3 linked regions of the Homo sapiens genome follow. The protein of the gene in region 3 interacts with the protein of the main gene of each other region in a pairwise test. Each region holds a gene or a part of one and is shown on either strand. Other genes may lie near its edges.

The links.
Region 1: the proteins of FOXN1 (region 3) and TSSK1B interact in binary tests that used the Homo sapiens proteins (3 or more experiments, as listed by UniProt).
Region 2: the proteins of FOXN1 (region 3) and TRAPPC6A interact in binary tests that used the Homo sapiens proteins (3 or more experiments, as listed by UniProt).

What each region holds. Positions count from the first base shown.
Region 1 is NC_000005.10:113,432,190-113,436,292, reverse strand, and holds TSSK1B (testis-specific serine/threonine-protein kinase 1), read left to right. Parts: upstream 1-1,303; 5' UTR 1,304-1,453; coding exon 1,454-2,557; 3' UTR 2,558-3,740; downstream 3,741-4,103. UniProt on the Homo sapiens protein: Testis-specific serine/threonine-protein kinase required during spermatid development. Phosphorylates 'Ser-288' of TSKS. Involved in the late stages of spermatogenesis, during the reconstruction of the cytoplasm.
Region 2 is NC_000019.10:45,165,323-45,168,448, forward strand, and holds part of TRAPPC6A (trafficking protein particle complex subunit 6A), read right to left. Parts: intron 1-3,126. UniProt on the Homo sapiens protein: May play a role in vesicular transport during the biogenesis of melanosomes.
Region 3 is NC_000017.11:28,509,187-28,512,910, forward strand, and holds part of FOXN1 (forkhead box protein N1), read left to right. Parts: intron 1-3,724. UniProt on the Homo sapiens protein: Transcriptional regulator which regulates the development, differentiation, and function of thymic epithelial cells (TECs) both in the prenatal and postnatal thymus.

The sequences.
Region 1 (4,103 bases), on a different chromosome or scaffold from region 3:
TTCCCCAGCAGGAAGGAGAAGGAGGCTGTCTGGAGGAAGGAGCACCAACCACGCACAAAGGACTGGCAGTGGGCAGTCAGAGTTGGGGAACAAGGTGAAGGAGCAGAGAAAAGGGAGAAGGGCCACAGCTGGTGGTGACCCAACCCAGCCTGAGCGACATCCAGCTCTACTAACTCACTCCTGAAGGGCCCAGGGTTCCACCTGGCTCATGTGAGGAAGGAGTTCTCACTCCCTCTAGGTGGATGAGGCCAAAGTCAAATCCAAGGCTAGGACAGTCATGCAACTCCTTCTTCCTGACGGTGTGGCCCAGAGCAGGTGCTGGACACAGAACCAGTCACAGCAGAGGCTCCACTGCCAGAAGAAATGATGGTTGCTGTCCAGTGCTTCCCCTGCTGCTTGTAATGTCCTCAGAGCAGCTGCCAGTGCTCAGGGTGGCATCCAGGCCCCACCTTCAGCCCCCAGCCCCAGATATGCCCTGGGAGCCCAGCCAGGGCCGTGAGCTGGGCAGGTCCCCAGGAGGGAGCTCACAGCCAAGAGCAGAACTCCTGCCAGCTGTCCTCCTACAGAGCTGCTGTAAGAAGCCAGCAAAGGCTCAGACAAGGGAAGAGATGTATAGGGAGGCGGCAGAATCCAGGCATCTCAAACTGCGTGACTCCGGGGCCAGGAAGCTGTCTACCTTCTTGACACACCACTCTTCTTGGCCCTGCTCTGCACTCCTGAGGGTCACCTGTGTGGACAGCATCAAGGGCTGAAGGGGAGAAAAAGAAGTCAGGGATGGGACTTCCTCCCATCCCCTGCCAGCCTGTAGGGTCACTGAGGCTGGCTTTTTCTCCCCTGAAGGCCACTGCCTCTCTCAAGGTGGTCCTGTCTACACTACTCTTTCTGGGTTCCAGGGACCATTCCCACCCTTTTCTATGCAGGCCAGGGGTCTGCTACTATCTTGGGGTAATTGTGTGACCCTCAGGGTTCCCTACACTCTGCTCCCACCTTTATTAATTGTCCCTTTATTAAATCCTCCTCAGATGCCCTGGTTTGCAAGAATTGGCCTCAATTCTGCACAAGTATGCCTGGCTCTGGGTTTGGAAGCATGGGCAGGCCCATGTGTCCCACACAGTCCCCTTCTACCTCAGGTCCCAGCAAGACACGAGGCCACTTTCTGCTCATCTTGTCTGCTCCAGCCTACTGGCCAGCCTTCCAGGATTCCAAGTCCAAGTGCCTCAGGCCAGGGTCTCATTCCCCCAGGGCACTCCTCCTTTGTGACTTCACTCGCTGAAGTCATCTGGGAGACAGTGCCAAATGTTCCACTCCAGAGTCTTGGCCTCTAGGAGGCAGGAACAGCAGGCCTGGCCAGCCCAAAGGACTCTCTATCCAGGATGTAAATGAGCACACTGCTGGCCCATGCGCCTCGGGGCTGTAGAGGGCAGCCTCAGAGGCACTGGGCATTCCTGGCACCATGGATGACGCTGCTGTCCTCAAGCGACGAGGCTACCTCCTGGGGATAAATTTAGGAGAGGGCTCCTATGCAAAAGTAAAATCTGCTTACTCTGAGCGCCTGAAGTTCAATGTGGCGATCAAGATCATCGACCGCAAGAAGGCCCCCGCAGACTTCTTGGAGAAATTCCTTCCCCGGGAAATTGAGATTCTGGCCATGTTAAACCACTGCTCCATCATTAAGACCTACGAGATCTTTGAGACATCACATGGCAAGGTCTACATCGTCATGGAGCTCGCGGTCCAGGGCGACCTCCTCGAGTTAATCAAAACCCGGGGAGCCCTGCATGAGGACGAAGCTCGCAAGAAGTTCCACCAGCTTTCCTTGGCCATCAAGTACTGCCACGACCTGGACGTCGTCCACCGGGACCTCAAGTGTGACAACCTTCTCCTTGACAAGGACTTCAACATCAAGCTGTCCGACTTCAGCTTCTCCAAGCGCTGCCTGCGGGATGACAGTGGTCGAATGGCATTAAGCAAGACCTTCTGTGGGTCACCAGCGTATGCGGCCCCAGAGGTGCTGCAGGGCATTCCCTACCAGCCCAAGGTGTACGACATCTGGAGCCTAGGCGTGATCCTCTACATCATGGTCTGCGGCTCCATGCCCTACGACGACTCCAACATCAAGAAGATGCTGCGTATCCAGAAGGAGCACCGCGTCAACTTCCCACGCTCCAAGCACCTGACAGGCGAGTGCAAGGACCTCATCTACCACATGCTGCAGCCCGACGTCAACCGGCGGCTCCACATCGACGAGATCCTCAGCCACTGCTGGATGCAGCCCAAGGCACGGGGATCTCCCTCTGTGGCCATCAACAAGGAGGGGGAGAGTTCCCGGGGAACTGAACCCTTGTGGACCCCCGAACCTGGCTCTGACAAGAAGTCTGCCACCAAGCTGGAGCCTGAGGGAGAGGCACAGCCCCAGGCACAGCCTGAGACAAAACCCGAGGGGACAGCAATGCAAATGTCCAGGCAGTCGGAGATCCTGGGTTTCCCCAGCAAGCCGTCGACTATGGAGACAGAGGAAGGGCCCCCCCAACAGCCTCCAGAGACGCGGGCCCAGTGAGCTTCTTGCGGCCCAGGGAATGAGATGGAGCTCACGGCTTAAAGCCCAAGCTCTGAAGAAGTCAAGGGTGGAGCCAGAGAAGGAAGGCAGTCCCAGATGAGCCTCTATTTTCATCAGCTTCTTCTCTCTCCCCTTGAACTTGGTAACCCACATGGTTCTCCCGTGGCCCCTAGGTGGATGAGGCCAAAGTCAAATCCAAGGCTGAGACAGTCGTGCGACTCCTACTCCCCCAGAGCGTGACCCGGAGCAGGTGCTGGACACAGAGCCTGTCTCAGCAGAGGGTCCCCACTGGCCGCAACGGCTCAGTGACAGCAAGAGCAGGAAGAGCAGCAGGAAGGCACCGCTGTCCACCTTGGGCACCATTTATCCTCCTTTCATCGTCCCCGGGGCAGTTGCGTGACCCTGCTGGGAGGCCAGACCGGGCCAGACTGAGGGTCAGGGGACCAGGCTGGGTTGGGGGTTGGGTGGGGCTGGACGGGGACGAGGCGCGGAGAGGCGGCGGGAAAGAGCTTCGGCTGGGCCACGGGCTCGCGGGCACTCTCGGCGGCAGCCTCGGGGGCTCCGACTCCAGCTCTGGGCAAGATCCATAAACTTTTAAAGAAGCCTCAAAACATACTTTTAAAGCATTAAGCTTTAAAGTGCTAGAAATCTTGTGCCCCATATGTGCTTCTTTCAGTATTATCCTAGATCCTCAGGAGTAGCATGGCAACTGGAGAAAATGGGAGGAAAGACAAGAAGAAATAGAAGCTGATTTAACATCAAGTTTATTCAGTTTTGATTTTTCTTATCTCTACTGGCTTTCTCCTGTTCAAACCTTGCAGCGATAATATTTGGAAAAGAGCACTTGGAAATTATATTCCTGTTTTTAACTCTTTATATTTAATCATTCTCCTTGTAATTGATTTTGTAGCTAATTTACTCCCCAGCACCCCCAGAAGAAAATTTTACAAAGGAAAATGTTTTATTTTTATTTTTTCCTTATCAACTTTTTATTTAAATGCTAATATCCAATTAATGGACAAACGAATCAGCTAATACTGGAAACAATGTAACAATAGTGAAAAGCATGAACTTTTGATTTCTATAGACCGAATTTGACTCTGCTACTAAATGATCTTGGGCAAGTTGGTTAATCTATATGTCTCAGTTTCTTTATCTATAAAATGAGAATAATACAACTTCATTAGGCATGCTATTCATTAATGTGTTTAGTTCTCATAACCCTATGGGAGGGGTCCTATTATTATTCCCATTTTATAGACACGAAATTGAGTAAAGTCAGTTTAGGTCACTTGTCTCTGAGCACATGATAAATACGTGGCAGAGCCAAGGTTAAAGCCCAGGTACACTCCAGCTCCGAGCCAACACTGTTAGCTGTTTTTTTTTCTTTTCTTTTTTTTTTTTTTTTTTTTTTTGAGACAGAGTCTCGCTCTAGCCCAGGCTGGAGTGCAGTGGTGTGATCTCGGCTCACTGCAACCTCTGCCTCCCGGTTCTGGGTTAAGCAATTCTCCTGCCTTAGCCTCCTGAGTAGCTGGGATTACAGGCA
Region 2 (3,126 bases), on a different chromosome or scaffold from region 3:
AGGGGCTCTGGCACAGCCCGGCCAGGGCAGGGGCAGGCCTCTAGGGTGCTGGGGCTCCCTCACCCACCTCTGCAGACCTTGCAGGCTCTCTGGATCCCCAGATCATCAGCCCCCAAGAACCAGCTCCCCCTTCCCTCAGGAACAATGGGGGTCTTCCCCAGGCTCCCTTCCTCCTCCATGACTTTTCCTGATAACCCCCATGACAGGCTGCACGTGCTTTCAGCGCGAACCCTCACAATGCCCTGGGAAGTGGGCGCTGCGACTCCACCAAGATGCTCCAGGTGACCTGCCCAAGGGCTGGAGGCTGGGCCACAGGAAAGGGGGCTGTGGAAGTCAACCATGATCATCATGCCTTATAATATTGGCCAAGATCCCTGGGGAACACGTGGAAGCTCGGGACAGGCAGATCTTCGTTTGGGTGCTCGAAAAGGACAGTGGCTGCCATGTAGTGTCTGGAGGGTAGGCCAGGGTCCATACAGGAGGGGACTGTGCTGGCAGAGGCAGGCCCCAGGTAGGAGGGCTGCACTCGGTGTCTGTCCACGTGCCTGTGTGTGTGGAGGGCATGGCTGGAGGAGAGGAGATGCTCATGGATTTTTTTTTTTTTAAGAGATGGAGTCTAGCTTCATTGCCCAGGCTGGAATGCAGTGGCCCAATCTCTGACTCACTGCAACCTCCGCCTCCCGGGTTCTAGCAATTCTCCTGCCTCAGCCTCCAGAGTAGCTGGGACTACAGGGATACGCCACCACACCCTACTAATTTTTTGTATTTCATTAGAGACAGGGTTTCACTGTGTTGCCCAGGCTGGTCTCGAACTCCTCAGCTCAGGCAATCTGCCCGCCTCGGCCTTCCAAAGTGCTGGGATTACAGGCGTGAGCCACCGCGCCTGGCGAGTTTTCTTTTTTGGAGACAGAGTCTCACTCTGTTGCCTAGGTAGAGTGCAGTGGTGCAATGCTGGCTCACTGCAACCTCCGCCTCCCGGGTTCAAACAATTCTCCTGCCTCAGCCTCCCGAGTAGCTGGGATTACAGGCCTGTGTGCCACCACACCCGGCTAATTTTTGTATTTTTGGTAGAGATGGGGTTTCACCATGTTGGCCAGGCTGGTCTCAAACTCCTAGCCTCAAGTGATCCGCCCGCCTTGGCCTCCCAAAGTGCTGGGATTACAGGCAAAAGCCACTGCACCTGGCCATGGATCTTTTTTTTTTTTTTTTTCATTCGGGTGTTTTGCTGCAAGCAGAGGAAGGGAGGAGGCCCAGACTGGGGGGCACCAGAAATCCCAGGACGGCTGGGGCGTGAGGCGCCAGGTTTTTCAGAGAAAGCCTGGCAGAGCAGAAGTGGGGGAACAGAGGCGGCAGGTGTGCAGCCCTGAGCTGAAGGAAGCTCACCCTCCCGCTGGCTGCTCTCAGGAGCCTGCAGTCACCAGGCCTGAGCCCTGCAGCCCTCCCTCTCCTGCCCTTGACCCCCACCTTCCCTTGGGAATGGCAGCTACCGCCTCCTCCCTCCAGGGCTGCACCATCAGCGCAGCCATCCGAATGGGGATGCGAATTCTCTGCTTGGCTCCAGCCCTGGAGCGGGTCTCCCAGCCTGGAGAGCGTGTCCGAGGAAGGCTTCTTGCAGCCTGCGGGCCCAGCTGCCTCCATCCCTCCCTCACCCTCTCCTCTGCCCCCTGAGGACATTCGCTCAGACTTCTGAGCCTTTGTACCGACTTCCTTCCCTTCCTCCCTCCCAGCTTGCGTCCCCAGCCCTGCCCACTGCACACTGTCCCTGGATGAGGACACAGCTCTGTGAAGGTGGGGACCCAGGCTGACCAATTCACATCCGGCCTTCAGCAGCCAACACAGAGCTTGGCATGTGGGTGGTGCTTAACAGACTGGCTGATGAGACAACGTGCATCAACAAAGGACACCGTAAGTCCTTACCTAATGCTGTCAACAGGCTCTTGGAAACTATGGCTTTAAGCAAAATGACATATGATGAAACCAATTTCACGCAGGTTAATTAACATAAACAAGAGTGAAGTTCCAATGCCATATTTCTGGTACAAACACATCACCAAACTTCTAAATAAGGATGAAAACACTTGAAATATTAAACACTGAAATAAATGTGAGCTATACATACGTTTAAGAAAGATTAGGCCGGGCGCAGTGGCTCACTCCTGTAATTCCAGCACTTTGGGAGGTCGGAGTTTCGCTCTTGTTGCCCAGGCTGGAGTGCAACGGCGCGATCTCAGCTCACCACAACCTCTGCCTCCCGGGTTCAAGTGAATCTCCTGCCTCAGCCTCCCCAGTAGCTGGGATTACAGGCATGAGCCACCACGCCCGGTTAATTTTGTATTTTTAGTAGAGACAGGGTTTCTTCTCTTTTGGCCAGGCGGGTCTCGAACTCCCAACCTCAGGTGATCTGCCCACCTCGGCCTCCCAAAGTGCTGGGATTACAGGCGTGGGCCATCGCGCCCAGCTGAGTCCAGGAGTTCGAGTCCAGCCTGGTCGACATGGCGAAACCCCTTCTCTACAAAAAATACAAAAGTTAGCCAGGTGTGGTGGCATGCACCCGTGTCCCAGCTACTTGGGAAGCTGAGGCAGGAGGATCATCTGAGCCCAGGAGGTCGCTACTGCAGTGAGCCATGATCATGCCACTGTACTGCAGCCCAGGCAACAGCAAGACCCTGTCTTTTTTTTTTTTTTTTTTTTTTTTTTTGAGACAGAGTCTCGCCCTGTCGCCCAGGCTGGAGTGCAGTGGCGCAATCTCGGCTCACTGCAAGCTCCGCCTCCCGGGTTCACGCCATTCTCCTGCCTCAGCCTCCTGAGTAGCTGGCACTATAGGCACCCGCCACCACGCCCAGCTAATTTTTTTGTATTTTTAGCAGGGACGGGGTTTCACCATGTTAGCCAGGATGGTCTTGATCTCCTGACCTCGTGATTCACCCACCTCGGCCTCCCAAAGTGCTGGGATTATAGGCGTGAGCCACCGCGCCCGGCCCTGACCCTGTCTTAAAAAATAAATAAAAAACAAAAAACCAGTAAGACATTTACTCGCTTCCTCCAGCTCAGGGTCCTGGGTGGCCAGAGCCCGTCCTGGCAGGGCCAAAAGCAGGAATGGACCCTGGACAGAACGCCATCCCATCA
Region 3 (3,724 bases):
TCCCCTGCCCCTCCCTCCCTCTCTGTGCCCAACTCCAACCTCATCCCTGACCCTTCCACCCGTCTCTGTCTCTTTCCCCATCATAACCTATCTCCATTCCCACCTTCAATCCCGCCCAGCCCCCTTCCTACTCATCCCCGTCCCCAAACTTGCCTCCATCACCACCACCCCATCCTGCTCCTTCCTCCTTACCTCATCTCCTCACTCCCACCTCCAACCACACTCCTATCCCCATCTCCACCTCCTGCTCCATTCCTCAGGATGGATCTCCTCCTATGTCACAGGTTCCCTTGGAGTCTAACACCCCTCACCAGCATCCCCGCCAGGTTCTGGGGTGTCCCCCAGGTTGTCTGAGCATTGAGGAAAAGCCCAGAGCCATGCCAATAGACAAAACGAGCAGGACAAGATCATCCCTGGAGCAGCCCTTAGCTTCCTCATCCTATCTGGGCCGTAAAGGCTGGATGCTCACCAAACAGTAAAAATGAGTTCAGATGCAACAAGACAAGTGGAGGGCTGGCGCCCAGACAGACCTCCACACTGCGGGCATGTGGCAGTGAAGCGGGGATGGAGAGACACCCTCATAGAGCCCCAAAGCGGGGCCGGGGCAGGCTTTCTCAGGGGGCTGGGAGCGTAACTGATCCTATCAGGCATGGCGGGCCAAGGAAGAGGGGGCATGGAAGCAGGAGCAGGGATTTTTAGGGTTGATTAGGAGTGCGCATCCCCGGGTCTCTACCCTGCCTGTGGCCCTTGCTTAGTCAGCTCAGATTAATGGGGCCAGGGAGAGAATTCGCTGAATCGTGATCTCTTGGGGAACTTGACTGGAGAGCCAGCTGTGAGTCATGGAGAAAAGGGAACCTGTGCTCTCACAGCTACTCTAGAAGCTTCCAGGGGTAGGCAACCCTCCAGATCCTCCCATCCCCTTCCAGAATGCAACAGAAAGCCCACTGCAAGGTCTGACCCTCGCCCTCCACCCCATGCTCACAGGAGGATGCACTGTCAGTCAGCTCCAAATCCTGCCCTCATACACCCTCCGGGGCCTTCAGGGCTCCCCCCACTGCCTCTGACAAACTACAGCACAGAGACACACATACACACAGAGACACACACACACAGAGACACACACCCAGACACATGCACAGAGATACATACATGCACACACGCATACATATATACATACAGAGAGACACACACAGAGACACACACAGACACACGCGCACGCACACACACAGAATGAGAATGGGGTGCATCCCTGGAACCAGATTGCCTGGAGACAGTTGGAGGTCCCACTTACACTTGTAAATTCCATAGCCATGTCCCGGACTGCACCAGCCCATCAGTCTCGGAAGGCATAGAATGTACATGAGGAAGGACACACACACACACGCACACACACGCACACACACACACACACACACACACACACACACATCGCTGTGATCAGAAAACCCAATTATCAGACTCTGCACTTAGCACCCCTCCTCCACGCAGGCCCAGAGTGACCACAGCAGTCTTCACTGTCAGTGGGGGCAGTGTCCCCAGCTTCCTCTGGAGAGGGTTCCTGGAGCCCACGTTGGGCACCAAGAGCATGTGGCTTCATAGAGGTGGCTCTGCTTCTCTGTGCCTTCCCGCAAGCGTGGTCAATCTGCCTAAAGTGGGAAGGGTTTTGGAGAAAAAATTATTTGGGGTGGCAATGCCAAATCCAGTATGATCTGAGGGTGGTCAAGGGAGAAAGATGGCAGCTGGAGCCAAGGAGCTGGATGGGCTCAGGAAAATGCCCCCAGAGCCTGCCCCTTCTCCAGGGACATGATTAGGTGCTGAGAGCTGCTTCCCATAGCCCCAGCACCTGGAGGAAGGAGCAGCGCACAGATGCCTGCATAGCAGGGAACAATCTCTCCCACTGGTGGGACCTCGGTTTCCCCATCTGTCAGATAAAGAGGGGCTTGGGTGGGAGGGCCTCCCAGTGCACTTCTCACTTCAAGGCTTAGTAAGTTCAAGGAGATAACCACCTGCCCATCCCCTGTGCAAGATGGCATTGGGAGAGGAGGTGCACCAGTATGTATTTGCCTTGTACTAAATCTGTATTATTAGTAGTGGTGGCAGAATTAATATCCTTAATAATAGATTGGTATTAATGAGCAGTTCTGATAATGATATGTACAGAATGTGAGAGGCCCCTGGCCCAACGGACAGTGGGATCCTGGGCCATTTCTTTGCCCCCACTCAGGTGGACAGGCAAAGAGCGAGCGCACCAGCAGGACGAGGGCCCTCTTGACCATCCCCCTGGGGCACACCCCTAGGAAGGGCAGATGTTTGAAGGTAAAAAGATCTCACTCAGCCCCATCCCACTCCTGAAATCCTACAGGCCTGGGACCCCAGGGGAGGAGGCAGGGGCACCAGACAAGCTGGTGCTGGTTTAACTTCTGAGGATTTTGACATTCTGGTTCTCACTCGGTCCCCAGGACAGCCAGATGAGGTATGTAGGGCAAAGATGAGGACTCCATTTTATAAAGGAGGGAACAAGGTTTATTCTCATGACTAGCCCACACCGAGAGCAGAGCTGGGAAAGGACCCTCCTGCAGTCCTTGGTCGGGAGGACTCACTGTGAGGGAAAAGGGGGATTCTGTAGGGAAGCCAGGATCTGGGCTCAGTGAAGGCGTCCAGAGATTATAACGCCAGGTTACGGGGGAGGTGAGACCAAGCTCCAACATCCCTGTTGGTCTCACAGATCAAATCCTCTGCTGCCAATCACTGCCACAGCCCAACAACTCCAAAGCCAATTACCTACACAGCCCACAGGAGGCTGGGGGTGGGACCATCGGGCTCAGCCCTGGGTGACTTCATTACAGGGGTAGGACTTCCGGGCCACAGGGACCCAGAGCTAATGAGTGCTTAGAGGTCAGCCACTTCATCCCATACCCCAGCCCATTTCTCCATCCCCTTCAGCCAGTGTAGCTGGAGGAAGCTTGTTGAGGAGGGATGAAGGCAAGGCTTCACAATCTGTGCAAAAGCCTCCTGGTCCTTCACTCATGCCCCACCTCATCAGCCATTCTTTGGCCCTTATCACAGCTGGGCAGACTGAGGATTTCAGGGAACTTTCTTCTCTAGAAACCAATGTCTAAGGCCTCAGATCACTGCTTTCTGAACACTGCCCCCTGGAAGGATCAAGCAGGCAACAAGTTCCTCCTTCTCAAAAGTCCAGCTTTCCAGTCAAGCCCTGAGTGGTTCTAGGCCACCTTGTCCACCTCCAAGTCCTAGGTCAGGCCAGTTCTCACCATCAGACTCAGCCATGGCTTCAAAAAATCCCTGGGAATAGGTGAGCACCGTGGCATGCACTTTTAGTCTCATATACTCCAGAGGCTGAGGCGAGAGCCTAGGAGTTTGAGACCAGCCTGGGCAACAAAGCAAGACCCCATCTCTAGAACCTGGGGAAGGTGGAGGTGGGAGAACCTTCTCCTTAAACTGCCTGTCCAAGGGGGTTTTATGTTTTTGGAACTGGGAATTCCCCTCCCCCACTAACCTTGGCGGGGCAAGCTTGCTGACCTTGCTTCTGGGAGCAAGATGTTGGGGTAGGCTCCCAGCCTCAGAGCCTGGACTCCAGAGTAGCCAGGGAGGCAGGAGGGTGGAGGAGGCAGACCATGAATGACACCCACAAGTAAGAGCAAAAGATCCCTGGAGGCCGAGGATGCTTAGGTGGGAGGTCTCTGTCAAGGAGCATCTAAGGAGT